Regions from separate parts of the Homo sapiens genome. Here all the other regions are linked to region 3. The links come from fine-mapping of genetic effects on gene expression. A gene starts in region 3. Each other region holds a variant in brackets. All regions are shown on one strand. Distances are from middle to middle. Region 1 overlaps CAB39L (calcium binding protein 39 like). Region 2 overlaps CAB39L (calcium binding protein 39 like). Region 3 holds the start of CAB39L (calcium binding protein 39 like). Region 4 overlaps CDADC1 (cytidine and dCMP deaminase domain containing 1).

Evidence for each region. PIP is the estimated chance that this variant, and not a neighbour inherited with it, causes the effect.
Region 1: its variant is fine-mapped to the expression of CAB39L in testis (GTEx, PIP above 0.99).
Region 2: its variant is fine-mapped to the expression of CAB39L in whole blood (INTERVAL, PIP above 0.99). The same link has a PIP of 0.9 or more in T cells, amygdala, anterior cingulate cortex, blood mononuclear cells, caudate and cerebral cortex.
Region 4: its variant is fine-mapped to the expression of CAB39L in cerebellum (GTEx, PIP 0.92).

What each region holds. Positions count from the first base shown.
Region 1 is chr13:49,409,129-49,417,237 of GRCh38, forward strand. All of the region lies in intron 3 of CAB39L (calcium binding protein 39 like), which reads right to left. Among named protein-coding and RNA genes, the nearest start is that of CAB39L, 31 kb to the right of the region's middle. The variant G/A (reference allele first, on the strand shown) is at 4,695.
Region 2 is chr13:49,339,023-49,347,131 of GRCh38, forward strand. CAB39L (calcium binding protein 39 like) reads right to left here. Exons shown (of 11, transcript NM_001079670.3): 8 at 5,157-5,216; 9 at 655-720. Among named protein-coding and RNA genes, the nearest start is that of CDADC1, 95 kb to the left of the region's middle. The variant G/T (reference allele first, on the strand shown) is at 5,017.
Region 3 is chr13:49,439,984-49,448,092 of GRCh38, forward strand. It overlaps CAB39L (calcium binding protein 39 like), which reads right to left and starts at 4,081. Exons shown (of 11, transcript NM_001079670.3): 1 at 4,003-4,081. It overlaps SETDB2-PHF11 (SETDB2-PHF11 readthrough), which reads left to right and starts at 4,291. Exons shown (of 21, transcript NR_135324.2): 1 at 4,291-4,874. It overlaps SETDB2 (SET domain bifurcated histone lysine methyltransferase 2), which reads left to right and starts at 4,291. Exons shown (of 14, transcript NM_001160308.3): 1 at 4,291-4,874. RefSeq lists enhancers at 3,459-3,528, 3,898-4,670, 3,909-3,988, 4,671-5,444 and silencers at 3,997-4,477, 4,149-4,198.
Region 4 is chr13:49,288,096-49,296,204 of GRCh38, forward strand. It overlaps CDADC1 (cytidine and dCMP deaminase domain containing 1), which reads left to right. Exons shown (of 10, transcript NM_030911.4): 10 at 3,589-5,390. The coding sequence ends at 3,662. Among named protein-coding and RNA genes, the nearest start is that of CDADC1, 44 kb to the left of the region's middle. The variant C/A (reference allele first, on the strand shown) is at 5,031.

The sequences.
Region 1 (8,109 bases), 31 kb before region 3:
ACAGGCAGGGACCATCAGAGCATACAGCAGTACAGCAAAGCATGAGGCAGGCAGAGGACTCCAGGCCAGCCCTTCCGGGAAACTGGTAACACTGGCTCTGATTCAGGCAGCATGCATAACCCAACTCTGCCATGCCATGCCTAGAACACTGTATGGGAGATTGGAGACTTAGTAGTACCTGACACAACAATAGGATTAGGATTATAAGAGGTTAGGAATGAGGTAATAGAGAAATGAACGTATATTACTGTTTCCAAGTGTTGGATATAAAGACTAGAAGGACAGCTTGAAGGGCTTAATAAAAGAGGTTTTTGTTTGCTTTAAAAAAAAAAAAAAAACCTTTCAACTCTTGGTAGATTGAGTGGGACAGACAGGAGGAAGGTAGAAGATGAGAAAGGGATAATTAATGGGGCATGATCTTTGAGCCCACAATGGGAGGGATCAAGAACATAAGTGGAATAATATATATTTTTCTAAAATGAGAAGGAGGAGAAAGCATTAGTAGAGACTGCCCAGGGAAAGAGGAATGAAGTTAGGAAGCACAGGTTTACTTCAATTTTCTCAGAAAAGCAGGACTCACCATCATCTGAAGAGAACAAAGGTAGAGTAAAAGAATATGTGTTTGAGCAGAGTGAAAATTGGTCTTATCAGAAAACCCACATGTGGCTGGGCACAGTGGCTCATGCCTGTAATCCTAAGCAGTCTGGCAGGAAGTAGGAGGATCCCTTGAGTCCAGGAGTTCAAGACCAGCCTGGGCAACATAGGGAGACCCTCTCTCTATTTAAAAAAAAAAAAAAAATCCACATAAATACAGTAAGAAGAAAAGCTAAAAGGTGTGACTCATGTACACCAAATCCTAAGTTTAACAGTTAAAGTTCCGCTTATATCCACACAATTCCACTTATATCTAAACAATATAACAACGCTAAGTACATGCTATGCTTTTCCACCAACTGCCCAATTTAAGGAATAACAAAGGATGAGGTTAAGAAACAGATCTTGGAGCCCCAAGATTCGATATACAGCTAGTATCATAACAACAAAATGGGCTTAGTGCCATAACCACAGGCAGATGGTGATACTAATAATTCTCATATTTCCCTGTCCTTCTTTGCTGGATCCATGTTCTGTTTTCTCCACAACTGGTACGCTTATGAAAAGTTCTTGCTCAAGTCAGTTAAGAACATAAGATACCTTTTAGTAAAAGAACAATTCCCACCCTGTTGAGAACTGATGTACATTCTCTTTTTATGAGGTGTGTCATACTCCAATTTTCCAAGTTTTTACAAATTTTCACTTTTCTACAAATTATTGAAACCAGAACTATACAAAAATTTTATGTTGGAGAATCATATTATTACTGTTATAAATCTTTAAAAGTACAACTTGTAAGCTGGTGCTCTGAAGCCAAGAAGAAAAACAGGATCTAAAGAGAACACAGAAAGAAAGGACAAAGAAAGAAGCAGGCTGAGTGAAGGGACAGAAAACCTTGAGTTATAAATAACTTGGTTTAAAATGTCAAGAGAAACTAGTCTCAAAGTATCTCTTTCTACAGAGTTATAATGCTTTTTAATAATGAAAGTACTTCACATGACAATTTTCAAAGTCAAAGCCATTTATGGCAAACAAACACATAGCATTTGCAATATAACATATTCAGGTAATTTACTGAATGGAAAAATCTCTATGGAATTCATCCAGTAATTATAGTGGGTTCCATTTATAAAACATATTTTACCACAAATCTGAAGACTTATAAAACATGATCTAGTATAGGAGAAATGATTATAATCCTTTAATAACTATTAATCACAGAACAATTAGTTTTAATAACTATAACCACAGAATGGCATCTTGTTTTACAAATAAAATACAAACCAGTGCACTGTTCTAGCTGTACTCATTCTAAACATGTCTTTTTATCTTTTAATTTTAAATTAAATGTCCATTAAAAAAGTATTTTTTATTTTCTATGCTTCTCTATTGTTTTAAAATCCCAGCCCGGTGTGGTGACTTGTGTCTGTAATCCCAGCACTTTGGGAGGCTGAGGCTGGTGGATTGCTTGAGTCCAGGAGTTTGAGACCAGCCTGGGCAACATAGTGAGACCTCGTCTCTATCAAAAATACAAAATATCAGCTGGGCATGGCGGTGTGTGCCTGTAATCCCAGCTACTTAGGAGGCTGAGGTAGGAGAATCTCTTGAGCCTTGGAGGCGGAGGTTGCAGTGAGCCGAGATAACGTCACTGCACTCCAGCCTGGGCAACAGAGAGAGACTCTCCTGAGAAAAAAAAAAAAAAAAAGAAAATCCCCCACCTCCCTCTTCTCTAATTCCCCTCCCCAAGATTAAGCACTATTCAAAGTGCTATCCTTCCAGACCCTTTTTCCAGGCATACGTAGATGTATGTATTTGTTTGAATACACACCAAGATAATTTTTTAAATGAGATAATACTATACACACTGCATTATAATTTATTTTATTTCTTTATAGTAGATCTTGGATTTCTCTACATTTGGTAGCTCTATCTCATTCTTTTAAAAGTGTTGCATGGTTGCACAGTAGATGCACTTGGCACTGAAAACTCGACTTAAGTATATCCCGAGGATGACCCTGAATGTGGTTCACAGTTTTGAGCTAAGGAATCTGGGATAAGCTGGAGACCCATTCCTTATCTATGAGGAACATTCGAGCCCCCAGCCTGGCTCATGGAACACAGGGCATAGAAGGGATCGAGGTCCTTTGTTTTGGGTTAAATGAAGGTTACCAGGTGGAGGTTGTTAGGGAGAAGGCATTAAGTGAAAATGCTATGTAAACTGCATGACTGTTGCAAGCAGTTGGTTCTCTTGCCTAGCCCACTGCCACTGGACTCTCTTCCCTGTATGTAAACTCCCCCCAAAACCCTCTGTCTCCTTTGCTGGCTCTGGGTCTCCTTGGCCTCTAGAACCTGGTGCCATCCCCACTGGAGTTGATAGGGGTTCAGCACAAATTGGTGTTCCTTAATATTGCTGTACTACAGTTTGTTTAACCACTTCTCTATATATAGACATACAGGTAGGTGAGGGTGTTGTTTTTTGTTTTTGTTTTGCTATCTTATAATCTATTTTAAAATTAGTCACTGATAACATAAACAAATCAGAATTTAAAAACACAATGTTAATTCTCCTTGGAAAAAAAGCCATAAAGTGATTATTTGTATTATTCTAATAATACAGATAAATAAAATTTACCTTTGCCATTTAAAAAAAAAAAAATGGCAAAAACCACAATTACTTTTGCACCAACCTAATAATAAGCATTTTTTTCATTTTAAATATTTTGGTTTCTCACAGTTGATAAACATGCAAAATCTGTCATTGTTTTCAATACAATGTTATCAATAATTCTGAAAATTTACACATGCAACTCATTTTCAAATTAACTGCACATTATGGCCTTTGGATATGCATTGGATACCCAATGTGTTTGAGGGCTAAATCTCACTAATTCTCCACTATTACTCAATTACGTTAAGCCAGCAGTCCCCAACCTTTTTCGCACCAGAGGATGGTTTTGTGGAAAGCCATTCTTCCACGGACCTGGAGGTTGGGATGCAGGGGATGGTTTCGGGATGAAACTGTTGCATCTCAGGTCATCAGGCATTAGAGTCTCATAAGGAGCCTGCAACCTAGATCCCTCACATGCACAGTTCACAGAAGGGTTTGTGCTGTCTATGAGACTCTAATTCTGCCACTGATCTAACAGGAGGCGGAATTCAGATGGTAATGCTTGCCAGCCAGCCACTCACCTCCTACTGTGCTGCCCGGTTCCTAACAGGCCATGGACAGGTACAGGTCTGCAGCCCAGGGGTAAGGGACCCCTGCATTAAGCAACTCTTGATTGGTGTTTTCAGAAGCCTAGTGTGATACTAGGTTCTCTAAGGAATTCAAAAGAGGTCTGTGATAAAAGATCTGTCTTCAAGGAGCTTGTACAACTTTTGTGAAAACAAAACAAAACAAAACAAAACAAAAAACCTTAGCTATCTATATAAAATCATTACACCTGAATACAAAGTTTTGAAGAAAATACAAAAGGAAGAAGAAATATGCAAGGGACCAAGGTATATTTTACCGTATTTTATCATAAGGTAAAATATAGAGATTACCTAAGTGAGGAAAGAAAAGGAGTAAGTGAAAGAAATGGGACTTTTTTAATTGTACAAAAATCATAGACTTTATAAATTCTTCTAAAACAACATATTTCCTGAGGATTTGTTAGCAAATACCTAAGAAATGGGAATTTAGATGCACTTTGAAAAAGTACTAGGATTTGGATATAGTGAGATAGAAAAAGGAACAATATCCCAGCATAGGAAAATTTTTTAGCAAAAATGCAAAGACTGGAATGAAAGTAGAAAAGGGACGGAAAGAGAGGTAGGGAAATGGGAGAAAAGAAAATTGTGGTTAAAAGGGAAATACATAGGGAAGTTTTTGAGGTGGAGTGGTGGACAGGGAGGGCACATATATTTGTTGTCAAAGGAAGAAGCCTGGAGAGAGGTAAAAAGCTATTCCCTGTACACTTGGCCCAACACGTTTTGGTCCCATTTCAACCAATACTCACCCTTTTAACTGGCTTCTACAAGAAATCCAGATACACCAAGTATTTCCTGGCTTTTGTAAGTTTTTATATGTGAGGTCACAGTGAAGTGTCACAATACAC[G/A]ACATAGCATTTCTCCAGAGTTCCTATTCCTTTCCTGCTGGATTTTCCCTGTGCCTTTCAAGTTTTTCTTCCCTTTTTTAAACAGAAAATTTAAACTCTATCTCTTCTAGTTCCAAATATGTATTCCTAACTCATCCTAAACTGCAACAAAACAGAGACTCTTCCAACGGCAAGGACATACCTCCTTAAAAGGCAATTTAACAACCGTCTCCAAATACTTGAACAAACCCTTTGTGGAGTCAACATTCATCACAAATGAATTATCCATGCTTTTCTTCCAAACAAATTCTGCATTTTCTATACAATTCTTAATGCTTACTAAAAGATTAACAATTTCTCCATTGGGATAGAGTCAAAACTGCAGATGAAAGATTTGCCTTAGTAAAAAGAAGCATAATGTTATAAAAAATGAATCATTCTTTTCAAGAAATAGAGGCAGCAACAGTTCTTAAAATTAAATAAGAACTAGAAGAATGTAGTGAGACAGAATCTTGTATACTGCTGAGTAGAACAAAATCCCCAGGAACCTTTCTAGAAAACAATTTACCAGAATATTCATGCTTTTTAACATATCAATTCTACTAACAAAAAGCTATCCTGAGAAAATAGAGATGGCTAGATGGTAAATGATGTTATTGCAATGTTATTTACAAAGGAAAGCCAAGAGTATCTACAAAAGGGAAACAGTTGAATAAATTATGTTATGCTACCATCTTAGAATATTATAGACATATAAAAATATTTTAAGTGCCATATATAGTCACATAATAAAATATGTTAAATAAAAATCAAGAAATAGGACTAATACTTCAAATTCATTTTAAAATCATAAATATTATATATATACAACTATGTGTGTGTGTACAGAGACATGCATAATTTTATATAGATAAAAGACTAGAAGGAAATACAACAAAATTTTAACAGTAATTTTCTCTGGGTAGTAAGACTACAGATTACTTTTTTCTTCTTTATAATTTTCTGTAACAATCAAATTTTCTACAATAGCATTTATAAGTGGAAAATTTGTTTTAAAAAAGGAGCAGCTTTGTTTCGCCATTAAGTAGGCATTAAAAAAAAATGTAGGCTTGCTGGGCACGGTGGCTCATGCCTTTAATCCCAGCACTTTGGGAGGCCGAGGTGGAGGTGGATCACTTGAGGTCAGGCGTTCGAGACCAGCCTGGCCAACATGGTGAAATCCCATCTCTACTAAAAATACAAAAAGTTAGCTGGGTGTGGTGGTGCGTGCCTGTGGTCCTAGCTACTTGGGACGCTGAGGTGGGAGAATCACTGAAGCCTGGGAAGTCGAGGCTGCAGTTAGCCAAGATCATGCCACTGCACTCCAGTCTGGGCAACACAGTGAGACCCTGTCTCTAGAAATTTTAAAAATAAAAATAAAAAATAAAAAATGTGGCCAGGCGCGGTGGCTCACACCTGTAATCCCAGCACTTTGGGAAGCTGAGGTGGGTGGATCATGAGGTCAAGAGTTCAAGACCAGCCTGGCCAATATGGTGAAACCCCTTCTCTACTAAAAAAAAAAATACAAAAATTAGCGGGGTGTGGTGGTACACACCTGTAATCCCAGCTACTCAGGAGGCTGAGGCAGGAGAATCACTTGAATCTGGGAGGCAGAGGCTGCAGTGAGCCAAGATCGTGCCACTGCACTCCAGTCTGGGTGACAGAGCAAGACTCTGTCTTGGAAAAAAAAAAAATTAAATTAAAATAAAATTAAAAATGTGGGCTCTGATATATTTATGATCTATACACTCTACACTATGGTACTGGTGAAGCCTATAGACTTCTGAGTTTCCATTATAACCCCATGTTGAGTAAAGTTTTAAGGGCACAGGAAGGGTGCTGATTTGGACCTCATACAGAACAACTTTAGTGACACTAGAATGTGAGCTTTGTGAGGGCAGGATGTTGGTGTGTTTTGCTCACTGCTTCATCCTCAGCACCTAAAATAATGCTTTGTACACGGTAGGCACTCAACAAATATTTGTTAATAAATCTCCAACTAATTTTTTAAAAATTATAAATTACTTTCCTGTTTTCTACTATGCCTTTTGTCTCTAATCATAAGGAAAAACAGAGAGGAAGTGCTGACTTTTAGATGATGAGTGGGGAAGCTCATAAAGACAGAACTGGAGTTTTTTGGTTTTCATTGTGTTTTTTGTCCTACAAAGCAAATAATGCTTTCTCTCAGAAAGAAGCTCACTCAGGCTTACTCTGACATGTTCAACTTTACTACTGACTTTCCTAACAAGCAAAGAGCATTTATGCTGAACCACATCTTCTGGAAAGTCTTGCTTTTACCCCAACTGTCTCACTGTTCATGGATGGGGAGGTGCAACTAAACTGGGTTGTAGTGAGGACAGAACATGTCACTCTGTTACTGGCTTTAGAAAAAGTAGAGCCAGTGGCCTATGATTCCAAATAGAAGAACTATTGCCCTTCTACAGAATGTGCTTTCAAACCTTGCCCCTGACCCACAACAAAAAATACGGCTAACACAAAAACCCCAGTAACAAGCTAACATGTGTGCAAGTAAAGCAAAAGTTTCACAAAACAACTGCTCTTACCACATCTGATGCAGTCTGATATTGTCTATGCTATTCAATTTAATATTTTTAAACTGTGGATTACAGCTCAGCAAACTGATTTTATGACCTACTAGTGAGTGGAAAGCCACAGTTTGAACAATGCTGACAAGGAGACAGTGCTTTCTTCCCCTGGACCTGTAGGCACTATGTAACGGAGTATCTAGTCATGAAGAAAACTGGCTCTGGAGCCTCCTACCTGACTTCACGTACTGCCTCTGCAACTTACAAGGTGCCTGGACAAATTACTTAACCTCTCTGGGCCCCTATTTCCTCATATGTAAAATGGAAATAACATACCTATGTCATAGGATTATTATAAGGATTAAATGAATTAATGTATAAAGTACTCAGAATAGTGCCTGGTACACAGTGAGCACTGTATAAATATTAGCTAAGATTATTATTATTAATGTGCCTACTGAGGAGGAAAAACACACACTGAGAATTAGGTAAGATGTAAGAGAAGGTCAAGAGGTCCTACGTATCCTGATGCTCTTGTTAGAAGCAGAAAAAGAAAACTGATAATCTCAAAATCTTCTACATAGAACCAAGCAAATGTTAGTCTATAGTAATTTGGTGTTTCTCTTTGATGCCTAAATAGATATTTGAATTAGATCTCACAGTTTATGTTGGCATCTAAAATCTCACTGGCTCTTATCTGAACCCAATCCACTCCTGATTAAGATAATGGTTGGATAGTAATCCATTCCTGATTAGTGTTGAATAGTTAATTTTGAGATAGTGGGCACTTTATATTCCAATTTTTAAAATAGCCTTATTGAGATATCATTTACATACCACAAAATTTCATT
Region 2 (8,109 bases), 100 kb before region 3:
TAGTAAAAAGCTATTTTATACTCAAAAATACAGATATTAAGAATTTATCAATTGCTGTGCTTAAAACTTAGAGGGAAGGTTTAATTTTTGCATTTTACATGTCTTTTTTTTTTTTTTTTTTTTTTGAGATGGAGTTCCGCTCTTGTTGCCCAGGCTGGAGTACATTGGCACGATCTTGGCTCACTGCAACCTCCACCTCCCAGGTTCAAGCGATTCTCCTGCCTCAGCCTCCCGAGTAGCTGAGATTACAGGAGCCCACCACCACGCCCAGCTAATTTTTGTATTTTTAGTAGAGATGGGGTTTTGCCATGTTGGCCAGGCTGGTCTCGAACTCCTGACCTCAGGTGATCCGCCCACTTCGGCCTCCCAAAGTGCTGGGATTACAGGCGTAAGCCAAGATGCCTGGCCTCAGCAGAAATATTCTAAATTTTACTTATCATGTACTTATATTGTTACTTCCAAAAGCAGGACAGGACACTTACATTATTTTGCTATAAAATACAGTCATAACATAAAATATAGTAAATACTTCTCAAGTTATTTAAAAAAAGGATATTTTAATTTTTCTGTGTTTACTCATATACTAATAGACCCGTCATTTGCTAATGAGATATAAACTTACGGGGACACTGACTTAAAGAAATTTGATATTACCTTTAAAGACTGTCTCTTAGTAACATAATTCTCAGACTGAAGCAATTTCTCATAGTCTTCAAAAATCTAATGAAAAGAAAATACACATTAGAGTGTAAAAGCAGCAGTGGATTCTCCGTATTAGGCTGGCTTGCTTTCTTTTTCAGGAGCAAATTCCCAACTTCTGGCCATTTTACCATCCTTCTTTACATGTGAAGACACTGGGGGACAGGGAGGTCAAGAATTACAAGAGACATCCTTCCCTATTTTATTTTAGTTCTGCAAATTAGATAAAAACTGAGTAATTTTGAGTCCTTCCAATAAATCATTTTGAATAAAACTTCTAGTAAAAGTTGCAAGAGAACTCATTTTATGCCATTTTAAAGAAATCTTTATGTAAGTAGCCTTGCTGGTGGCTATGGGTCCACAATTTGGGAAAATATTAAATACACTTAAGGCTTCACTTGGCAAGCCATAAAGAATCAGACTGTTCAATTCACTGCATAAACAGATAAAGAACGAGGCAACCTTTGTTGCATGACGGCCCAACTAGTCTCTCTGGAGCACTTCACTCTCACCGGAAGCTGGGGACACTGGTGCACGAAGTCTTCTTTCCTAACATGGTCACCAACCATGGCCTAGCCCTTCAGTTTAACACAGAGTGCTGGCATCTGGGGAGGTTCAGCATTCACTTCCATCAGGTGTGGGCACACAGCTCATAGAGCACTGAAGTGGGAGGAATGAGCGCAGCCAGGACGGAGGACAAGAGATCAGGAACTGAAGAGGGTGACAAACTCCTAGCCCTCGGAGAGTCAAGTGCGAGGGGAGAGTGTGTGCCGCTGTGTAATGAGGGCAAGCTGTGCATGCTGACAATCACCGATAGAGAATAAAGTGAAAAGTAAAAATACAAAGGTGTAGCTCACATTAAAATCACAGTAATTATACTCTTTAATATGAATGACTTATTTATTCTATCCTGAAACACAAGGAGAATTTTGTGGATCATTAAATGCATCAGACAAGCCTTGTGATAAATTTGAATAGTAAATATAAAATGCAAATACATGTATGTGGTATGACCTACTCCCGAGTCCACCAGCTTTATTACTTTAGAGTCATGCATCATGTGCTCCAGTTTCATGGCATACTGCTAAAGAAATATCAGCTGAAAGAGTCTGAAAGGTTTGAAGGGGCATGAGTTCTCAGAGCTCGCATTCAGGCCAATGCAGGAGCTTCAGCAGCTGTGAAATTACTAAATTACACAAGAAGTGATATATGGATGTAAAAACAAAATTAGGTAAAAAAGGAGTCAAAGAGAATGAATTTATTAGTCTCTCAAACTGTCATGTATTATACCTGAACACAAAGCATTACTGCACAACACATTTACCTCATTCATTCTATAGGAAAAAATAGTAATTAGTTGATATTGTAGATTTATCCACGTTATCTTAGCCTTTTAAAAATTTTATTTCTTATAAATGTGACATCTAATGAATCTTTCCTTAACATTCCATCTAGCATATATAGTTACTGAACAACCAAACTATATATTAACAGTTCATTTCCTAAATTCAAAAATAGACAATTTTCTTTTTCTTTTTCTTTTTTTTTTTGAGACCAAGTCTCGCTCTGATGCCAAGGCTGGAGTGCTGTGATGTGATCTCAGCTCACTGCAACCTCCGCCTCCCGGGTTCAAGCAATTCTCTGCCTCAGCCTCCCGAGTAGATGGGATTACAGGCACCCGCCACCACATCTGGCTAATTTTTGTATTTTTATTAGAGACAAGGTTTCACCATTTTGGCCAGGTTGGTCTTGAACTCCTGACCTCGTGATCCACCCGCCTCTTTCAGTCTATACATTTTGGGATGCCTCTAGCAATAAAAATTATTCTCCTTGCAGTAGAATGAGGTTATCAGAGGCTGGGGAAGGTAGGAGGGAGGGAAGATGAAGAGAGACTGGTTAACAGGTATAAAAATACAGTTAGAAGAAATAAGTTCTAGTATTCAACAGCACAGTAGGGTGACTATAGTTAATAATTTACTGTATATTTCAAAATAGCTAGAAGAGAAGATTTGGAAAGTTCCCAACACAAAGAAACGATAAATATTTGAGGTGACGGGCATCCTGATTACCCTGATGTGATCGTTACAAATTGTATGCATATATCAACATATCTGATGTACCCCATAAACATGTATAATTATTTTGTATCAATTTAAAAAATCATCCTCCCCTCACATTTTACACTTAAAACAAATACTCTAGTTGATTCTGTGGCTATTTCCTTTATAACATGAGGACATAAAAATCACTTTTGATTTTATAATTATATTGCTAATTCCTAATCTTAAATTGAAGGACAACTGGCAAAAATAAAATTTATTTTATTTATAATTAAAAGAGAAGTAGTTAAATATTTGTGATTTGAATGTGTGAAGATATACTATTGATAGGCAGAGTAGGCCACACCTTCCCAGTATTCAGGAGTATGTTGCAACCTTTGTCTAGGATATAAATGATTCAGAGACTCCTTGAGGACTATTATTAATATTTGTTTGCTACCACTGGTCCATATGCCTATTATGTGCCCAACTATACTGCATACTGTTGGGAAGGCATAAAGTCATAGTAATCATCAAAAATGTACTTCTTTTTGTAAGCACATGTAATTTAATTTAATACTAAAGATTTCAATCAATAAAGATACTTTACCTTAATTTACTTATTACTACCATAAATATCATATACACATGAAATTGTTTTTTGCTTTTAATAGATGAAGACAAAAAAAATCCATTCATCATACCATATATATAAATATTTAGAACTTCTTGGTTTAGGCATCAATAATACAAATAGTTAAGTGCTGCTTTAAGACAGCAGATTACATTCTTGCTGTTAGGTGTCAGGCACTAGACTGGGTGATGGAGACAGAGTAGTAACATTAACTAACACATGTAAAAATGCCAAAAATCCCAGTAAAAAATAACTGTGGCTGTTGCTAGGATGAGGATCAGAGACTCCCCTTCCCTAAGTCCTAGTTTAGATGCATGCTGTCCAACATAGGGCCATACGCGGCTACTGAGCACTTGAAATGTGGCTAGTCCAAACTGAGATGTGCTGTAAGTGTAAAATACACATCAGATCTCAAACACTCAGCATGAAAAAAGGATGTAAAATAGCTTGATCATTTTTCACTTCATCTTAGCCAAAAGACCGAGAAGCGATGATCATTTTCCATATTGATTGTACATTAAAATAACATTTTTCGTATGTTGGGTTAAATAGATGTATATTATTAAAATTAATTTCACCTGTTTCTTTTTACCTCTTTGTGTGGCTAACTAGAAAATTTTAAGTTACATAGTGGCTCTCATTTCTGGCTGGCATTATATTTCTACTGGACAGCACTGAGGTAGAGCATCTGAACCAACACTAGAACAAAACATACAAAGTTTTCCTTCTAGGTTTGAGCTATATTTTACTGTATAATGCTGCTTCTATTGCTTACACATTTAGTAAAAGTATCGTTGCTTTTGGATGGATCTGTCACCACCAAATGTATGACACTGCATTAGGCATTAGGAAAACAAGTAACAACGATTAAAAACTAATACTGAGTGCTTACTCTGGTACTGTGCTGAAAACTTTAAATCCCGTCAAACTCCCTCAACAACCCTATGATTCAGGTATTATTACTATGTTCATTTTGCAGTGGGTGTAGTAACTTGCCCAGGGCCACTAAGGAGGCAGGTCTTGAAGCCAAGCAAGCACGAAGACTCTAAAGTCCATACTGTGCTCTTAACCCTGTGTCCTGCAGATAAGATTCCTGCCTCTTAGGGGGTGCAAGGGCCAGCCAGAAAGATACAGACACACCATAATAATACAAGGTGAAAAATAAGAGGGAGCCAGAGAGAGAGAGAAGAAAGAGAGAAGGGGAGAGGAGGGAGAGGAGGGAGAAGAGAGAGGAGAGAGGAGAGGGGAGAGAGACAGAGACAGAAAGAGAGAGAGAAAGAGAAAGGATGCATGTTTTGGGAGGGGTAGGATTAGGGAAAGCTTTCTAAAGAGTCATATTTCAACCAAATCTCAAAAGGATGAGTTGGATTCACTGTCAGGGAAGGGAGTTGCAAGATAAAAAATATTTCTGGTATTTTTACTACTAAGTAAGACTAATTATCAACCAAGTAAAATGATGTACTTTAGTGAGGGTGGGGTTCTCTTCCTTTTGGAGTTACCTACTGCCTCCTTTGATTTGCAACATCAAAGCAAGCAGGTGCTAGTCATTTATTGAGCTTCAGAGCACAACACGAAGAGATGTGAAAAAGGTGAAAGCCCTGACCTCCTGCCATCTCAATTTTCCATAAAGTTTCCTGATGACCT[G/T]GTTTCCAGGTAGACAAATCAGGAGTATGGTTGAATGCGACTGATTTCTCTTGTGGATAATTCACAGGGGCAATTGCTCATAGATCTAAAAGGGAGGGAGAGAGAAAGTGGGAAAGTCTTTAAAAATGATTTCTACTTACAGTGTCGTAATTTTGTTCTAAGAAGTCTGCTACCAACACTTTATGTCTGGTTAGTAAATCCTAGAAAAAGAAAAACCAAGTGAAACAAAACTGTTATAGCTATTAATATTACAAATGTGTCTTTTCTAAGGTTTAAGAACATATAAAAGTTGCAGAAGAACATTTTCATTTGCGCCACAAAATTATTTCCATTCCTAGCTTAGCCTAAGATGTGAAATACAAGTTTGTTTCATGTTAGAAAAGAAAAACTCTGGTGTTAAACCTAGTGTTTCAAATTCATATTGTTAGATTTATGATAGAAATAATTTAACTGGTGAAACAAATGGAACTTGAGATGAGTTAATTTTTTTTTTTTTTTTTTGAGATGGAGTCTCACTATGTCACCCAGGCTGGAGTGCAGTGGCATGATCTCAGCTCACTGCAAGCTCTGCCTCCCGGGTTCAAGCGATTCTCCTGCCTCAGCCTCCTGAGTAGCTGGGACTACAGGCGCCCGCCACCACATCCGGCTTTTTGTTTTTGTATTTTTAGCAGAGACGGGTTTCACCGTGTTAGCCAGGATGGTCTCGATCTCCTGACTTTGTGATCCACCTGCCTCGGCCTCCCAAAGTGCCTTAACCACTTTTAAAATGGGCGCCTCGGATACTGGAAGCGTAGGACTGACATTTAGCAGTGTCAAACCAGTATTGTTCCTGCTCTTGGGTTAATGGGATGTAAGGTGTTGTGCAAGTTACTAAGTAGCACAATCCATCCTTTCAAAATTGAAGATGAGTAGCCCTATCTTATGGCAGATATAAACTTGCAGAAAACTGAACAAAGCATGAAGAAACATTTGACTGTCTTCAACTCATACCTAAATTATATCCTTAACTCACTTTAATGTTGTAGGAAAACAAGCCTCACTTAATCCCTTTTATATGCTTAGAGGCTAAATGCCCTGTCTAGGTGCTATGAAAAATTTAATTAAAAACATAACAAGAATTTTAAAGTTTTCCAAAATAAATTCTTTTAATACATATTTAATTAAAATTTCCTAAAAGCATATAGAAGGTACACAACATAACTTCACAAAGAAAAGGCAGATAACAACCATAATAAAACCCACTTATTTCTACTTTAATTTTTTAAAAAGTAAAATATTTAAAGCATTGTGTACTATAATTTTCAAATTCAAAAATAATAAGAGTGGCTCTTAATTCCCTATTGCTATCACACAACTTGATCAACCACTGGGCCTATCAGTGGAAACATGGTGTTTTTCCCCCCCAGTGGAGCAGAGCATTCATTACCACTCTGGAACTGAAGTTCTAAAATGGAAAACCATTTACAGGGGTTCCGTTCCCACCCCGTCAAAGGTCTTGATTCAAACTAGTTCCTGCATCAGGGGACCCTTGAAAGAGTAAGGTAGTTCCACAAGATCCTTTGAGGTCCCTACTCTTTTTTTTAAAGGATAATATTGGTGTCATGCTTTCAAGCATCCCTCCCCTAACATCATAGAAACCCCATGAGCAGTAATAGAAATTTTCTGAGCTGAACCAGGGCAGAGGGAGCCCCCTCTATGGGCTGCAGCAGACACTGTGGATTGCTGCACCCATGGGAGTTCTCTACCTGCTTCAACTATCGTCAGCCTTGAAAGTGAGGACTGGGTTCCCCACACTGCAGGCCCAGCGCACACAGCCCCAGTGGCAACAAAAAGAGCAGGTTGCAGATCAGTGCTGCCTTGAAAGGTTGTGTCATACATTAGTGTTACCCCAAAGAAAAAGGGATCAGGAGGGAGTTAGGTTAAAACCAACACTTTCAAATTCCAAGGCAAGAAAACCTTGAAACAGCTTGAAAATCCAGTATTAGGAAACCATAATAGGGTGGGGTAGAATTCCTCCAGCATATATATATATGCTAGATATATATATATATATATATGCTAGATATATATATATATATATATATATCATGGATACAGCCAATAAACAATGCACACATTCCCTCTCTCACGCCCACATTTCCACTCCAGTGTGTAATGGGATTGATACATGGATATACCCTCAAATTTATGTACATAATAAATGTATATACAAACCACATATACATACACACAGGCTTATGTACACATAATACATAGACAAATATAATTGCTGCATTATAGATCACATAACTGAGTGAAAAAAAAAAAAAGAAACCACAAAAAAAACAGCTAGGATCCTACCCAAGAAGGAAAAGACAGAAAATTGTGAAGGAAAATAAAGTTCAAACTCCAAAGAATTTAGAATTTAAAAACCTTAATTCAAATAGTGTACTCTTTCATCCTACCTCCTAACAATTCTGTTTTGAGAGGCCTAAGTTTTGCATAGTATATTATGCTGAAAAATCTGATATCTATATTTTTAATGAATACTGCTTGAGAGAAACTTGGGGTAGAGTGAGAGAGACACTTAATTGCAGGGACATAAAAGGCTGAGGAGCCAGCGACAGCTGCCGTTTAGAGGGCTGACTGTGCTGGGGAGTGTACCGAGCACTTTGCAAATACGGTTTCTGATCTTCACAAGTCCGTGAAAAAGGGATGATTTTCTTCATTTCAGATGTGGAAAATAAAACTCAAAGGTTAACTAAATTGCTCAAGGACATCCAGCTTATCAGGTGGCAGAGAAAGACAGAATTCAAACCACTTCTATTATGGGAATTTTTAGAGGGAGGGATGAAAGAGATTATGGTTGTATGGAATCCTTTTTGGGAAAAGACTTTTGGTAGACAAATCTATGCCAAAATAAAAAACTAACAATGTTACAATATTAATAACTAAACTGAGCAACAGTCCCTTTAAGAGCTCAAAACCAAAAAGATTAGGAGGTTATAAAAAACCCAAAACCAATGCCAAAATCAAGTCAATCATCCAACCAAACAAAACCCTTTGAAACCAGCTACTTTAAAAAAAAAAGTGATTTATGGTCATTGTTACATT
Region 3 (8,109 bases):
TTTGTCAGATGCATAGTTTGCAAATATTTTCTCCTATTCTGCAGGTTATCTGTTTGCTCTGTTAATAGTTTCTCTTACTGTGCAGAAGCTCTTTAGTTTAATTAGGTCCTACTTGTCAACTTTTGTTTTTGTTGCAATTGCTTTTGAAGACTTAGTCATAAATTCTTTCCCAAGGCTGATGTCCAGAATGTTTCCTAGATTTTTTCCTAGGATTCTTACTGTTTGAGTTCTTACATTTAAATCTTTAATCCATCTTGAATTGATTTTTGTATGTGGTGTAAGGTAGAAGTCCAGTTTTGTATGTGGTGTAAGGTAGAAGCCCAGTCTTATACACATGGCTAGCCAGTTATCCCAGCACCATTTATTGAATAGGAAGTTCTTTCTCCATTGCTTCCTTTTGTCAATTTTGTTGACCAGATGGCTGTGGGTGTACAGCTTAATTTCTGGGCTCTCTATTCTGCTCCATTGGCCTATATGTCTGTTTTTGTACCAGTACCATGCTTTTTTGGTTACTGTAGCCTCAAAGTATAATTTGAAACAAGCTACACATTCAGTAGCACTGAATGTGTAGCTTGTTTTGGGCAGTATGGCGATTCTAATGATATTGATTCTTCCAATCCATGAGCATGGAGTGTTTTTCCATTTGTTTGTGTCATCAATGATTTCTTTCAGCAGTGTCTTGTAGTTCTTGTAGAGATCTTTCACTTCCTTGGTTAGAGGTATTCCTAGGCAGTGTGTGTGTGTGTGTGTGTGTGTGTGTGTGTGTGTGTGTGTGTATGGCTATCGTAAACAGGACTGCATTCTTGATTTGGCTCTCTGCTCCAACATTATTGGTATAGAAACGCTACTGATTTTTGTACAGAGTTTGTATCCTGAAACTTACTGAAGTTATCAGTTCCAAGAGCCTTTGGTGGAGTCTTTAGGGTTTTCTAGGTATACAATCAGATCATCAGCCAAGAGAGATAGTCTGACTTCTTTTCCTATGTGGATGCCTTTTGTTTCTCTTGCCTGATTGCTCTGGCTAGAACTTCCTACGTATCTCATGTCTGAGCTCTTATTTCTGAATTTATGTGGTTCTTTCAAAGATTTCATCTTTTCCTTAAATTCTCTTAGCTTACTCTGAAATATTTAGATTGTCATTTTCATCTGCTTTGTGGCCACATTTTTGGGGTATGTTTTCATAATCTCGTGCAATGTTTTATGGCTTATTTTGATGATTTTCTTATAATGATTTAGTGTATATATATATATATATATATATTCCCTTTTCCCATATATTTATATAACTATATACTAAAAGGAGGTTCCCGGCTAGGTACAGTGGCTTATGCCTATAATGCTAGCACTTCGGGAAGCCAAAGCAGGAGGATCACTGGAGTCCAGGAGTTTGAGACCAGCCTGGGCAACATAGCAAGATGCCATCTCTCCAAAAAATTAGCCAGGCATGGTGGCACATATCTATAGTCCCAGCTACTCTTGAGGCTGAGGAGGGAGGTTCACTTGAGCCTGGGGGGTCAAGGCTGCAGTAAGCTGTGATCATGCCACTGTATTCCAGCCTGGGCAACATAGCGAGATCCCATCTCTAAAGAAAATAAAAAGGAGGTTCCTATGTTACACTGTATGGACATGCTGGAGTTTAAAAAAATCTATTTCCTAGTGGAATCTGGTTGTTTCCAGTTTTGGCCATTACAAATAAAATCGCTATAAATATTTGCAGAGCAGCCAATATAGGTTTTCATTTCACTTTTCATCAGAGAAGCATACAATCATCAAAGGGGAAATTAAAACCACAATGAGATACCCCATCATACCTCATATAAAGGCTAAATATTTTAACTGATAATGCCAAGTGCTGACAAGGATGAAAAACTACTGGAACTCTCTTATCTTGGTGGTAAATTTCAATCTAGAGTGGGCTTGCCAGATCATGTGATAAGGATATGATTAATTTTATAATAAACTGTCAAATTGTCTTCTAGGTGGCTGTACTATTTGCAGTCTCACCAGCAAGACTAAGGTTTCTCCTTGTTTTGCATCCTTGCCAGGAAATGTATTGTTTGTTTTGACATTCTGAGTAAGAGGTTGTGTAGTATCTCACTGTGGTTTTAATTTGCATTTTTCCAATGACGGTGGTTTTAATTTGCATTTTCCCAATGACTATTCTATACTTCTTTCATTTAACACAAAATGGTAACCACTTTCCTATGTCATTCAACAGCCTATGCCACTACTCTTTGAAAACGTTCCTTTTAAAAGGCTGAAAAATATAATGATGGGATGTGTCATAATTTATAAAACCATTCTTCTACCATTAGATATTTGTTATTTCCAATTTTTCACAAGAACAAAATTACACTGTGATTATAAAGCTTTGATTCTATCTCTATTTCCTTACAAGTTTCTTAGAAAAGGTCAAAAGGTATATGAACTTTTGTTTCTCCATGCATTTTGACAAGCCAACTGGAAGATACAAGTCAAGTGGAAGATACAAGCATGGAATCAAGTAATTAAGAAAAATGATTCTCAGGCCAGGTGCCGTGGCTCACACCTGTAATCCCAGCACTTTGGGAGGTGGAGGCGGGCAGATCATCTAAAGTCAGGAGTTCAAGACCAGCCTGGCCAACATGGTGAAACCCCATCTCTACTAAAAATACAAAAATTAGCTGGGCGTGATGGCCGGTGTCTGTAGTCCCAGCTACTCAGGAGGCTGAGGCAGGAGAATCGCTTGAACCACGGAGGCAGAGTTGCAGTGAGCCGAGATTGCACCATTGCACTCCAGCATAGGCGACAAGAGACTCCATCTCAAAAAAAAAAAAAAAAAAAAAAAAAAAAAAAACATCAATTATTTTGCTGTTTGTTTTGTTTTTTGGTATTCCTGATGCGAGATGTCTTTATCATGTATTGTTGATTAGGTTGTTCATCAGTTAATCTTGAATAACTGAAATCTAAGCTGAAGGCAATAATACATCGGCTTTCTTTTCATGCAAGTCAAACTGCTAAAATCTACCACAAAATATTAGCCTTTCATCAGCTTGGTCTTCAGATCCAATACATTTTCCCCTCAAATGAAAGACAATGCAATGCCATCCACAACAATGCTAAAAAAAAAAAAAAAAAAGGAGGAGGGAAACAAGGTTAAGTCCTGTCTTCTTCCTCCTACCCCAAAAAGAGCTCAGAAATTAAGGTGCTTTCCCTAACAAAGCCTCCTCCTGCTCCATGAAGTGACCAAGCATGTCATGGCAGACCCAGAGATTTATAATCTTCAACATATCGTTATCGGGGAAATCAAGATTTGACAAAATTCTTCCTTCACGCCCCGTTTCTGCAAGACCACCACTTTCTAGCTTAAAATAAAGAAAAAAAAAAGACAGCTGCAGGAATGCTTGGCTGCCCGCTAATGTACAATTTTGCCCAAACGCAGAACTTGACGCCCACTATTACCAAAGGATGGCCTTAGTAAAGTAACCCCCGCGAAGAGCAAACTGTTTAGCAGCCGCTCCCTCGAAAAGGACGGAAGAGGAGGTCTCTTCTGAACCTGAGGATAGTAGAGAGGCACTCCCCTTCCACTACTAGCTTTGCTCCTTTCTCAATCAGGCAGTTCATCAGCTAGCCTCCTTTGTCAAAGGGGGTTGATGGTCAGAATCTTTGCGAGACAAAAATTACTAAAAGAGCTCCCAGGAACCAATGTTAAGGCATCAAAGGCCCCGCCCAGCCCCCACAATGATCAACAAACCAAAACCTGGGATCCCTACTATTACCACCACCACAACCATCACCACCACCACCACCACCATTCCTCGCTCTCTCTAGCCAGGGATGAGACTCAGGCCCAGGAAACCCATCCTTTCCGCAAGTAGGAAGGCGCTGGGTCTCCTCCCTTAGGCCTCTCCTTTACCCCATTGTTCTCTCCGGACCCCTCCACTACGGCCAGGCGCTATGTATGTTTTCAACCCCCAAGAAGCCCAGTCCCAGCCACACACAAGATGGCAGCCTCACACCTACCGGAGGAAACAGCTGCGCCACCACTCCAGTGATGCCGGCCTCTCGACTACGAGTAACTCCATTGGCTCAGCTACAGTGCGCGAGACAAGCCGAGAGCGCTAGCAGTCAATCGGGAGGCGGCGCGCTCGGGCGCCACTGCGGTGCCAGCGGTAAGTGCGCCGAGTCTCTGAGGCGTGAACCAGTGGGGAGTGCGACCAATCAATGGGCTCCTGGCTGGGTGGTGGGACGGCCGGCGTCCGACTCCTCCCATGTAGTGATCGGTTTAGGTAGGTCGGCCTGGTCCCCGGCGGAGGTTACGCCTTCCCTCATCCCCGGTAGAGGCAGGGCGGGACTGTTGTGGTTGAGATGAAGGCTAGTAAATGGTGAAGTACTTCCCGGCCAGAGGGCACCTGCGCTCGGGAGGTTTGGGCGGCTTGGCGTCGGAGGAGAGCCCCACCCGCGGAGGAACCCAGCCTTGCCAACGGAGCTGGCGGAGCTCACTCCTCAGGTCAGGCGGGCGGCGTAGAAAACGCAGCGGAGCCAGGTGAAACCAAGGCACCGCCGTGGCTGGCCCCCGACAGTTCCTCTAGCCGGGAGGTTGGAGGAGCTGAAAACGCCGCGGAGCCCTCGGCCGCCCGAGCAGGGGCTGGACCCCAGCCCTTGCAGCCTCCCTTCTCCTGGCACCCAAGTGCAGTCCTGGCTGCAGAAGGGGCCGCGGGCGCACTGAGTTTCCAACCTCCATTTCAGCCTGTCTGTCTCAGGGTGCAGCCTTAATGAGAGGTGATTCCTAAGCTGCTGGGAACCTGAGGTTGTCAAAGGGGCGGCAGGAAATGGACAGCAGTATAAAACCCAGAAGCAGAACTTGAAGGTTAAACCACTAGCCCATTTCACAGGTAAGATTACACGAGCCCTTAAATACAGCAAGTTCAGTCATTCATCCAAGATCATGGAGTTCAGATTAGATAGTAACACTTCTGACTCGCTATCAGCCACAGCCCAATAAGTAATTAAGTAAGGAAAGATATGTAATTAACTGTGCTCTTTGGCATGTGGAAACCTGCAGTGAGCTCTGTAAATACTAACACATGAGGCCAAGGAGAGGAGTAAATTTGAAGAGGTCAAATGGAGTAACCAAAGCATAGGCTCTGAAACCATGCTGCCTGGTTCCTTATTTCGTGTCTGCCACTTACGGTATGGCATTCCTTAGCTTCCTCATCAGCAAACGAGCTGCTAATTTAACCCACATGACTGTTAGGGGGATTAAATAAGAACACGTGAAGTAGTTAGAAGCGTGACTAACCCGTGGTTCTTAAGCGTGACTTAACCCGTGGTTCTGTCGTTACAATTAAAACGTAAGGAGCCGAGAGGAAATGGTAAACGTGTTTTTAAAGCCTGTTTTAGAAACGAAAAGGAACCATACATTGAAGCAAAGCAGACTGGCTTAATTATTTTTCTACCAAAATGAAAAAGTGAGAAGGGGAAAAAAGTTTTTTAAGCCCATTTACTCTCTGAAATATTAACACCAGTTGTCTCTGGATGATGGGATGGTGTTTAAATTTTCTCCTTTATGCTTTATTGTATTTTGCAGATTTTCTCCAGGAAACATGTTTTACTTGTGCACGTTCAGTTTTCAAATTTTCAGGTGTGAACGCTGGTGAGAGCTGCTTAAAAACAAAGCTATGGGCCGGGCGCGGTGGCTCACACCTGTAATCCCCACACTTTGGGAGGCTGAGGCGGGCGGATCACCTGAGGTCAGGAGTTCAAGACCAGCCTGGCCAACGTGGTGAAACCCCGTCTCCACTAAAAACACAAAAATTAGCCGGGCGTGTGGTGGCGGGCCCCTGTAATCCCAGCTTCTCGGGAGGCTGAGGCAGGAGAATCGCTTGAACCCGGGAGGCAGAGGCTGCAGTGAGCCGAGATCACGCCACTGCACCCTTCTCACTGCACTGGTGACAGAGCGAGACTCCGTCTCAAAAAAAAAAAAAAAATCTATGGCCGTGCGCGGTGGGTGGCTCACATCTATAATCCCAGCACTTTGGCAGATCACTTGAGCCCAGAGTTCAAGACCAACCTGGGCAACATAGACCTCATGTCTAAAAAAAAATAAAACTATTACTGAGTGTGCTTAGGTGGAAGTATAAATTGGTAGAACCTTTCTGGAAGAGAGTTTGACAATATGCTATAAAAAGCTTTAAAATGAATTCCTTTTTGAACATTTATATATACTTAATTTTTAAAAATTAAGTACACTTTTACATTCTTTTACAGAATTGGTACCTTGTAGATAAAGAGCACAATCCAGATTTTGACCTTGAGTTTTTTCTTGCGTGTCAAGGTTATACTTATAAAAACAGTTGAATAGCTTCCCGTATTTTTCCTTCTTGAAAGTTCGTATATGATAAAAATTCTCCGTTCTTTGAAAGTTTTGTACAAGGAATGTTCCCTCACTCCTCTCCCTCCCTACTCCCGCTGGAGACTTTGGTACAGAGCTTTCAAGTGTTTTTTAATACTTACACCTTTTAATACTGTTACATATTCTATATAGGTGAATATATACATTTGTAATTTTTTAGTGGAAAAATACTATACTACATCATTCTGTAGCTTTATTTCTTGACATTGTTTTTGCAGCCTGTACATGTTATTTATAGCTCATTATGTTATTTATGGATCATTTCTTTTACCTGCTGCATAGTGTTCCAGTGTATGACTGAATTGATCTGTTAATATAAAACATTTCTTTGTCTCTTTTATTGGTCTTGTTGTTAAATCCTATTTTGTTTGATGTGTGCTGTATAGCACATTTTATTGCCATTCTCTGAGAACATTAGGTTTCCAGTTTTTCACCATACAACAATGCTGCAAGGAAAATCTTTGTGTTTTCTTGTGCACATGTGCTATTTCTCTAGGATATATACCTAAAAGTGGAATTGCTTGGTTTTAAGTTGTGAGCATTTTTAGTTTTAATAGGTCATGCTAAATTTGCCTCCAAAAATACCTCTACTAATTTACATGTTCCACAGGTAGTTTATGAGAGTTAAGTTTCTCTACAGTTTAGACTAACATGAGATATTATCTTCTTCATTTTTGCCTAGTGATGGCTGCAAATTATATTTTTAATTTTAATTTTCATTCTGTGATCTAAGATTGAAGTGTCTATTATGTTTGTTAACCTATAATTTATATGCATTTCTATAGTTTTTTAAAAACATGTTTAAGTTCTTTATGTGTCCTCGATACTGTATTTTTAGAAGTCTCTTTGGTGTGTATGGTTAATTATGCCTCCTTTTTGTTGCTATTGTTAAAATATGTTAAAAACATTTTCTCTTAGCTTCTTGCTTGGCTTTTGACTTTTTGTTAACTTATTTGTTCTACAGATGGATTTTCCTCTGCCAATCTTTAGGCCTCTTTTTATCTTACTGAATTTCTCTAAGACTTCCAGTACAGTATTGAATAAAAACAGTGATAGCAACTGTCTTCATCTTGTGCCTAATAAAAATTCTCCGAATGTTTCATCATTGAGTATGATGTTTGCTGTCATTGAGTAGGATGTTTTGGTAGATAGCCTCGATCAGAATAAGAAAGTTCTCTTTTTTCCTAATTTGCTAAGGGGCCCCCCCACCTTCCATGGAATAATTTTATATTGAATTGTTTTGTTTTTCTGCATGAAGTGATAGTTTTCCTCCCTTTGCCTGTTAATATAAGCATTCACATTGATAAACTTTTCATGTTAAACTTTTTAGGTATTCTTGGGATAAACTATTTTGGTAATACATTCTTATTCTACTGCTGGATACCTTTATTCAGTATTTTTGTGTCTAAGACCCAGTAGTGATTTGGGCCTTGAGTTTTTTTCTTGCATGTCAAGGTTATACTTATCTCATAAAAAAAAGTTGAGTAGCTTCCCATATTTTTCCTGCTTCAGAACAGTTTGTATATGATAAAAATTAGCCGTTCTCTGAAAGTTTTGTACAATTCATCTGTAAAAGTTTATGGACCTAGTGTACTAGCAGTGAAAAAAATTTCATATCTCATAAAAAAAAATTGAGTAACTGCTTAAGAAAAAGTTGAGTAGCTTCCCATATTTTTCCTGCTTCAGAACAGGTTTGTGTTTGATAAAAATTATCT
Region 4 (8,109 bases), 150 kb before region 3:
TAAGGAAAAGGAAGACATGCTGTGGTTAAAGCCCCAAGATTGGAAGGAGGGGACAAAAGGAAGGCTTCTGGTTTGCTGGCAATGTTTTATTTATTGACCCAGATGATGGTTACATATGTTTGCTTTGTGACAGTTCAACTGAACAGTTAAGTTTATGTTTATGCATTTTTGAACAAGTGTTTGATCTCAGTAAGCAATACCCCATTTCCTTTTTAATTATATGATAGTTTTACTGATATGTAATTCATCTATCATAAATTTGCTTCTTTAGTAGATTCACGAAGTTGTACAGGCATCACTACAACATAATTTCAGAACATTTTCATTATCTGAGAAAGAAGTCTCATGCCTATTTGCAGTCACTCCCCATTCTTCACTCCCCCTAGCCCTAGGCAACCACTCTTTCAGTTTTTATGGATTAGTCTATTCTGGCCATTTCATATAAATGGAATCATACAGTATGTAATTCCTTTCCAATTTTTGATTCAGTTGAGAAATAGACACCAGAATCAACAGATGAAAGTTACAACACCAGCTTTGTTGTTAGACTGGGGCTTGACTTTTGGGTAAATCAGTCTGTCTAACTCAGAGGGGGACTTGCTGCTGGATACTCTCTCAGTGCCAGTAGCAGGGACAAACAGAGAAGGAAGGCAGGCAGTGTGACTGACAACTCTCAAGTGCCCTTCCACTCCATGCAAATGGAACCCAGGTAACCCATAACAAGCATTCTTTTTAAAGAGTCATGGAGCTTTCAAGAAAATAAGAGAAATATTCTCCTAAGAACAAAATAGAGATAAGAAGGCATTTTGCTAGAATCTGAGGAGCAATAGTAAGCGAACACAATAGCCAGAGCTATCCTGGGGACAAATGTCCATATAAGCTGGGATCTGAGATCAGGTCTGGGTCTGCTGCAAGGTGAGTGAACTGAACTTAGTTCACCCAATCAACACATGAAAAGATGATTAAACTTATTAGTAGTCAGAGAAATGCAAATTAACATTGCACGGAAGTAGCTTTTTTTTTGCTTTTTTTTTTTTTTTTTTTTTTTTTTATGACGGAGTCTCACTCTGTCGCCCAGTCTGGAGTGCAGTGGCGTGATCCTGGCTCACTGCAACCTCCACCTCCCAGGTTCAAGAGATTCTCCTGCCTTAGCCTCCCAAGTATCTGGGATTACAGGCATGCACCACCATGCCCAGCTAATTTTGTATTTTTAGTAGAGACGAGGTTTCACCACGTTGGCTAGGCTAGTCTCAAACTCTGGACCTCAGGTGATCTGCCCGCCTTGGCCTCCGAAAGTGCTGGGATTACCGGCATGAGCCACCACGCCTGGCCTGAAATAGCATTTTTTATAAGCGTATGCCCTAGAGAAACTCTTGCATATTGTATAAGAGTCAGAGAGACAAAGAATTTGTTGCTATATTGTTTTTAAAAGCAAAAACTGGAAATAACACAAATGTTTGTTTTGGGTGGTTAGATAAAAATATTATGGTGTATTCCCACAATGGACTACCATATAGCAGTGAAAACAAATGAACTAGAGCTACATTCTTCAACATGGATGAATCTTAGAAATATAAATGTTGAATTTAACAAAGCAAACTACAGAATTATGATACCATTTCTGTATAAAGTTCAAAAAGACATACCATATATTGGTTAAATGTGGTAGGCCAGGCATGGTGCTCACACCTATAATCCCAGCATATTGGGAGACTGAAGCGGGCCAATTGCTTGAGCCCAGGAGTTCAAGACCAGCCTGGGCATCACAGCAAAACTCCATCTCTACAAAAGATACAAAAAATTAGTTTGGCATGGTGGCCTGTGCCTGTAGTCCCAGCTACCGCAGAGGCTGACATAGGAGGATCACCTGAGCCCAGGAGGTTGAGGATGCAGTGAGCTGAGATCACACCACTGCACTCCAGCCTGGGTAACAGACTGAGACAGACCCTGTCTCAAAAAATATATAAATAAATAAATAAAATATACTTTAATATATAGTATATACAGTAAAGTTATTGTTAAGAAGCAATCGATTGATAAACACAAAAATCAAGATAGGAGTTGCCTCTGAGTGGGGTGAAAGGGGATGGGACGAGAGAGGGAGCGCACGGGAATTGATAATGTTCTAGTTGTTGGATTCGGCAGTATGTTTTGTTTTTTTTCCATCTCCCCCCAACACACATAATGTAGTTTTATTCAGTTTTAAACAAACTGTAACTCTTTTGGGGCAGTAAGTTCATGAGTGTTCATTTTATTGTTAGGCTTTAGAACTCCCATCTGTATTATGTATGTATTATTATATATTACATAATACATTATATATAGAGAGAGAGAATGTTTCAAATATTACATGATATGATGAGAACAAGAAAGAGAGAGGGGTGGCTTTCCAGATCTACCTCTGGAAGGCAAGTCTGAGCCCTGGCCCAGGTGTCCTTAGGACAAGGAAACAGCAGGGCAGAACATACAGGCTCAGGGCAGGAAATCCCTCAAAAGATGGGAAGAAAGGGGCAGAAAGAAGCTTTTGCAGGTGATAGATATGTTCATTGTCTTGACTGTGGGGATAGTTTCATGAATGTGTACTTATGTCAGAAATCATGAAACTGGACTAAGCAAAATGGCTCCTTCCTGTGATCCCATCATTTTGGGAGGCTGAGGTGGGAGGATTGCTTGAGGCCAAGAGTTCAAGACCAGTTTGGGTAACAGACTGAGAACCCCATCTCTACAAATATTACAAATCAAAAAGTAAATTAAAAAAATTCATCAAGCTATACACTTTATGTTTAGTTTATTGCATACTTTAAACATGTATCATTTATTGTACAAATAAAGCTATTAAACACAAAAGCCAGGAAGAGGTTGAAGCCATACTCTTTTCCCAGCCTGCCCAGTCAGATAAGTCCGTCTTCCTTCCAGTCCCCAGATTCTCCCTACCCCACACACAGTCCCCTTCTCCCTTAGGAGGTACATTTTATTTCTTCCAGTCTAGTAATAGGACGTCCCCCCACCAAAAACATAAAACAAAAAGTTTTATGAATTACTTGCCGTACACTGTTGAGTGAATTCAGTTTTTGGTTTTTTTTTTTTTTGAGACAGGGTCTCGCTGTGTCACCCAGGCTGGAATGCAGTGGCACAGTCATGGCTCACTGCAGACTTGGCCTCTCTGGGCTCAAACAGTCCTCCCACCTCAGGCTCCTGAGTAGCTGGGATTACAGGTGTGCGCCACAACACCTGTTTAAAAAAAAAAAATTTTTTTTGTAGAGATGGGGTCTCCCTATGCTGCCCAAGCTGGTCTTGAACTCTTGGGATCAAGTTATCCTCCCTCCTCAGCCTCCAAAAGTGTTAAAATTACAGACGTGAGCCATTGCACCCGGCCAATGTGAATCCAGTTTTTAAAAGCCAGATTCTGTATTGCCTGAGAGTAAGTTATCTAGATTGGATTCTCTACAATTGAGAATTTGAAGATAAAATAAAGTGAAAGTTCCTTTAACTTAAGCATTGTTTTGCTCTTACAACATGTAAGGCTGAAACAAGTGCCCATGGGTTTGAAATGAAGCTGTCCTGACCTAGCGTTATTCTCAATGCTAGATGGTGTGTTGAGACCTGTCCCACAGAAGGAAGAGCAGCACCAGGACAAGAAGCTGCGCCTCGGAATCCACTAAGAAGGCCTGTCTACACTGCAGGGGAACCTCAAGAACTTTTCATTGCACTTCTAAAATTCAGCCTTGTTCATTCAGAAAATAAGGATGGATTTTGTGAATAATTGAAAAGATTTTTTAAGGAAGCTAATTTATTTCTAGGATACAAATGGTGTTAATAAGAATATTTGTCTTTTAGATTTATGTGTGGGTTTTCCATAATGTAGTAGTGTGTTATTTTATTACACGAAATGAGGGAGCAATAACTTCAACCAATGTAATCACCAACAGGGACTGATTTCTATTTATCTTGACTTTATATTAGCCAATTTGAAAGGGTCTGCTTCACAAGAGGTCATGCCTCTGCAGGGAATCACACACCTTTTGAGAAATATTAATTCTTTTGAATTACAAGAGTGACAGTTAGTAAACTGCTCCAGGGAAATAAGTGTCATCTTTTAAGAGTCAGTGTATAGCAAACCAAAAGATCACATTTATACCCAAAGCTTTCTAGTAATCAGAATTTACTTAATTAGAATTGACTCATAAAAATAAAGTTAGTGGACTTTGTCTCCATTTTTAAAGTATATTTTGTAAATGTTAATTCTGTGGTCCTGTTTATCACAGACTTTGGGTAGCAATAGGAAGAGAGTGTTATTCTGAGACAGTGTCGCTGCTTGATATCACTGACTCTTGAAATCACTAACAGTGAACCTCAAATTTGGTTATGATGTTAACAGAGAAGAAATATTTGAGTCTGGAATATTGAAACTAGCTTTCCTAGAATTCCATTAATAAATGCTGCTCCCCCATATAGTCTTCCCTTCTGTATAATTAACATAGGTTGTCTCATGGCTTTGATCTTCAAAAGGAAGAGCCTTTTAAAAACATTTGCCAACCTCAAGAATAAATACTGAAAGTCTTGAAAGTATGGTCATTTCAGCTATTCCAGATTGCTGTCTGTGATTTCTCACATTTTTATTTGCTGAGAAACATTCAGAAAATTATTCCAAAAATGAAGGTACATTTTCTGTTCTCTCCTAGGTTAGAGAGGGGTGGCCTGGGGTGCTTCATGAGAAATGTCTTCCTGGATCTGCGGTGGTCAGGTTTGCCTCTGCTTTTGTTCCCTGCCTTTCCGCCACATCACACGGCCTCACTGGGCTTCCTACCAGTTTCTCAGAATTACACGCACGACCATCCAAACATTGGCTCCATGCCAGGGCTGTGACTGCAGCCTGTGTAGGACCATGGGGAGTTCAGAGTCATCATACAAGGCAGCCAAGAACTGCCATAAACACTACACAGATGGAGGGCATGGGATAGGACAGGAGAGGAGGTGATGTACACTTAGAGGTAACTAAGGCTAGTTTGAAAACCGTGAATTAAGATATT[C/A]TTATCAGTATAAAAACACTGAGATTGCTTACCTCCCAAATTGCTTTATTGTATTAACTCTCATGCTTCAGCTCTTGGATTTGTTGTTTCTAACTAACATGTCATGTACACCAAACATTTTATAAATCAATCAGTAAATATTTTGTAAGACCCAAAATCCTGGCATATTGCCAGGTCTGTGGATTTGCCTGTTGGGTGTTGGGATGGGATATCAGAGGAAGAAGCATACAAGTGGGAAAAACTGTGATTAGAAAGGGAAAAATAGGCATTTCCACAGTACTATTAAGAGAGGCATGATAATGCCATTTTTTTTCTTCTGTACAACTGGTCAGATTTCAATAAATAATCATTGATGGTTTACTGTGTAGCCTCAGAAGGTGAAGTCTATGAGGGCAGGGAGGTGTGTGTGTGTGTGTGTGTGTACTTTTTAACTGCTGAACCCCAGTGTCTAGAACAGTACCTGGCACACAGTAGGCATTCCATAAATATTTGTTTATTGATTGAATGACTGCTAAACACTGCTAGACTGCGGGGATGAGATGTGTGAGAAATGCCTCCTGATCTTAAGACACTCACAGTCAAGTGGAAGATACAAGCATGGAATCAAGTAATTAAGAAAAATGATTCTCAGGCCAGGTGCCGTGGCTCACACCTGTAATCCCAGCACTTTGGGAGGCTGAGTGGGGTAGATCACTTGAGGTCAGGAGTTCAAGACCAGCCTGGTCAACATGGTAAAACCCCGTCTCTACTAAAAATACAAAAAAAAAAAAAAAAAAAAAAAGCTAGACATGGTATTGCATGCCTGTAATCCCAGCTATTTGGGAGACTGAAGCAGGAGAATCACATGAACCCAGGAGGCAGAGGTTGCAGTGAGCTGAGATCATGCCACTGCACTCCAGCCTGGACAACAGAGCGAGACTTAGTCTAAAAGAAAAGAAAAGAAAAAAATGTCTCTGGACCAGCAGACTATTTGTTAGAAGTGCATATTCTTAGGGTGCTCCCTAGGCTTACTGAATTAGAACCTCTCAGGGTGGGCCCAGCAAGCTGGGGTTTCACGACCTTGCGGGTGATTCTGGTGACCTTTAAGGCTGAGAACTGCCATTGTGGATGTAACTGTAGGAACAGTGGGGGCACACGAGGATTTACCAGCACTCTGGGGAGTCATGGAAAGGACCCTGTAGAGGCAGAGGTGATGAGGTGGGGCCTGAGGGGATCCAGGGGTTTGCCAGGTAAACAGTGGGAATGAGACAAATTTCTGGGAAAAAGTGATGGAGACAGACTGCTGAGCCACCCCAGGAGCCCGCCTGGGTTTGGAGAAGCTCTGTGGGGCACTTTTGACCCAGATCTATAAATTCCCAGTCTTCATCCCTTAGCCTGAGAAATCAGAACTTACACTTAAACAAAAAATACAATGTCTTTCTAAATTTCAAAGAATGGGAGGATGATGGTAAGTTCATAATTTGTAAAAAAAAAAAAAAAAAAAAAAAATAGCTCTGCCATTTGTTTACTGCCTAAGTGGCCACAGAATATGCTACTGTGAGGGGAGCTAAGTGTAAGCATTTGCCTGGCTTCCTTCATCCCAGTCATGCAGAACATACGCAGGTGTGTGTATTTTCATTGTATTGCTGCTGAAGCTTTTTCTTTCCTTTTTCAAGACAGGGTCTCACTCTGTTGCCCAGGCTGGAGTGCAGTGGTGCCTTCATAGCTCACTGCAGCCTTGACTGTTTTCTGTGCTCAAGCGGTCCTCCCCACCTCAGCCTCCCAAGTAGCTGGGACTACAGGCACGTGCCACCACGCCTGGCTAGTTTATTTTTTATTTATTTTTTGTAGAGACAGGGGTCTTGCTATGTTGCCCAGGCTGGTCTTGAACTCCTGGCCTCAAGCAATCCTCCTGCCTCTGCCTCCCAAAGTGCTGTGATTACAGGCATGAGCCACCGCGCCTGGCCAAGTTAGCTTTATTTCTGGGTCAATGAATGGTACCAACACTCTATAAACATGAACTCTATCTTTAGTGACACTATGATACATAAATGAGCTTATCGCCCCTGAATGTCTATATCTAAACCCACGTAACACTTGGGAAGGAGAAAGAAAGAAGTGAGCCCATCTTGGGACAGGAGCTCCTTTGGTGAGTGTAGCACAGAGTGATTTGTTAGGGAAAGCACATGTCTTTCCAGAAGGACATGAGCCAGAACTTTCCTGGAATACTTCCCACCACCCCATGATTCTCAGAAATTGGGGTCCAGGCCAGGATGAACGAGAAAGAAACCACAGTTCATCCCAGTGCTGACACCCGTACCCAGAGAGGCCCGGGCCGGGGATGTATCCCAAGGACAAAAGGTGGAGGGAGGAGGCTGGGGGGAGTTCACTTCCTGTGGAGTGAATGGAAACAGCCTGGCTCTGCCTAATGTGCATGAGGGGCTGGGGGTGGCTTGAACAGCTTGAAGTACCTTGTGTAGTGTGTGCGCACATTCACAATGTTAGAAAAAAACAAAAACAAGAGCTAAGCGAGAAGTCTGAAATACTGTGGTGTATGATGCTGTTGAGTTGCAAGAAATGGAAGCTCGTGAGCCGGGAGGCTTCTGTGTGGCAGATCGTAACTCCTGACCAACTTTGTTTCACCCATGATGATAACCAGCAGAGGTTCTCCAGGTTGTTTATTTTTGAACATGGTACAATTCATTAACAAATATTTGCCAGGGCTTAGCTTACCATGAGCCAGGCACTGTGAGGAGTGCAGTTACAGTGGTGAGGAAAACCAGACACAAACCCTGCCCTCGTGGAGCTTATCGTCTAGTTGGGGAGATGGACATACATCAGTATTCATGAAAATGAATGAAAGGTACACAGAAAAGAACTGGCCTCCCAACAAATACAGGGACATGTTTTTTCAGTTCTTCCACTTCACAGAGATCTGGTACTATTATAATGGCACCATGGGCTGCACTTAGTGGACCCAGAAAGTTCTACTGGTTTGGGTTTTTTAAAAGATATCCTACACGCTTAAGCAGGGAATCTTTTGGAAACCTCTGGAAGAACAATCATATTAAACATGCAAATAGGGCTGGGCACGGTGGCG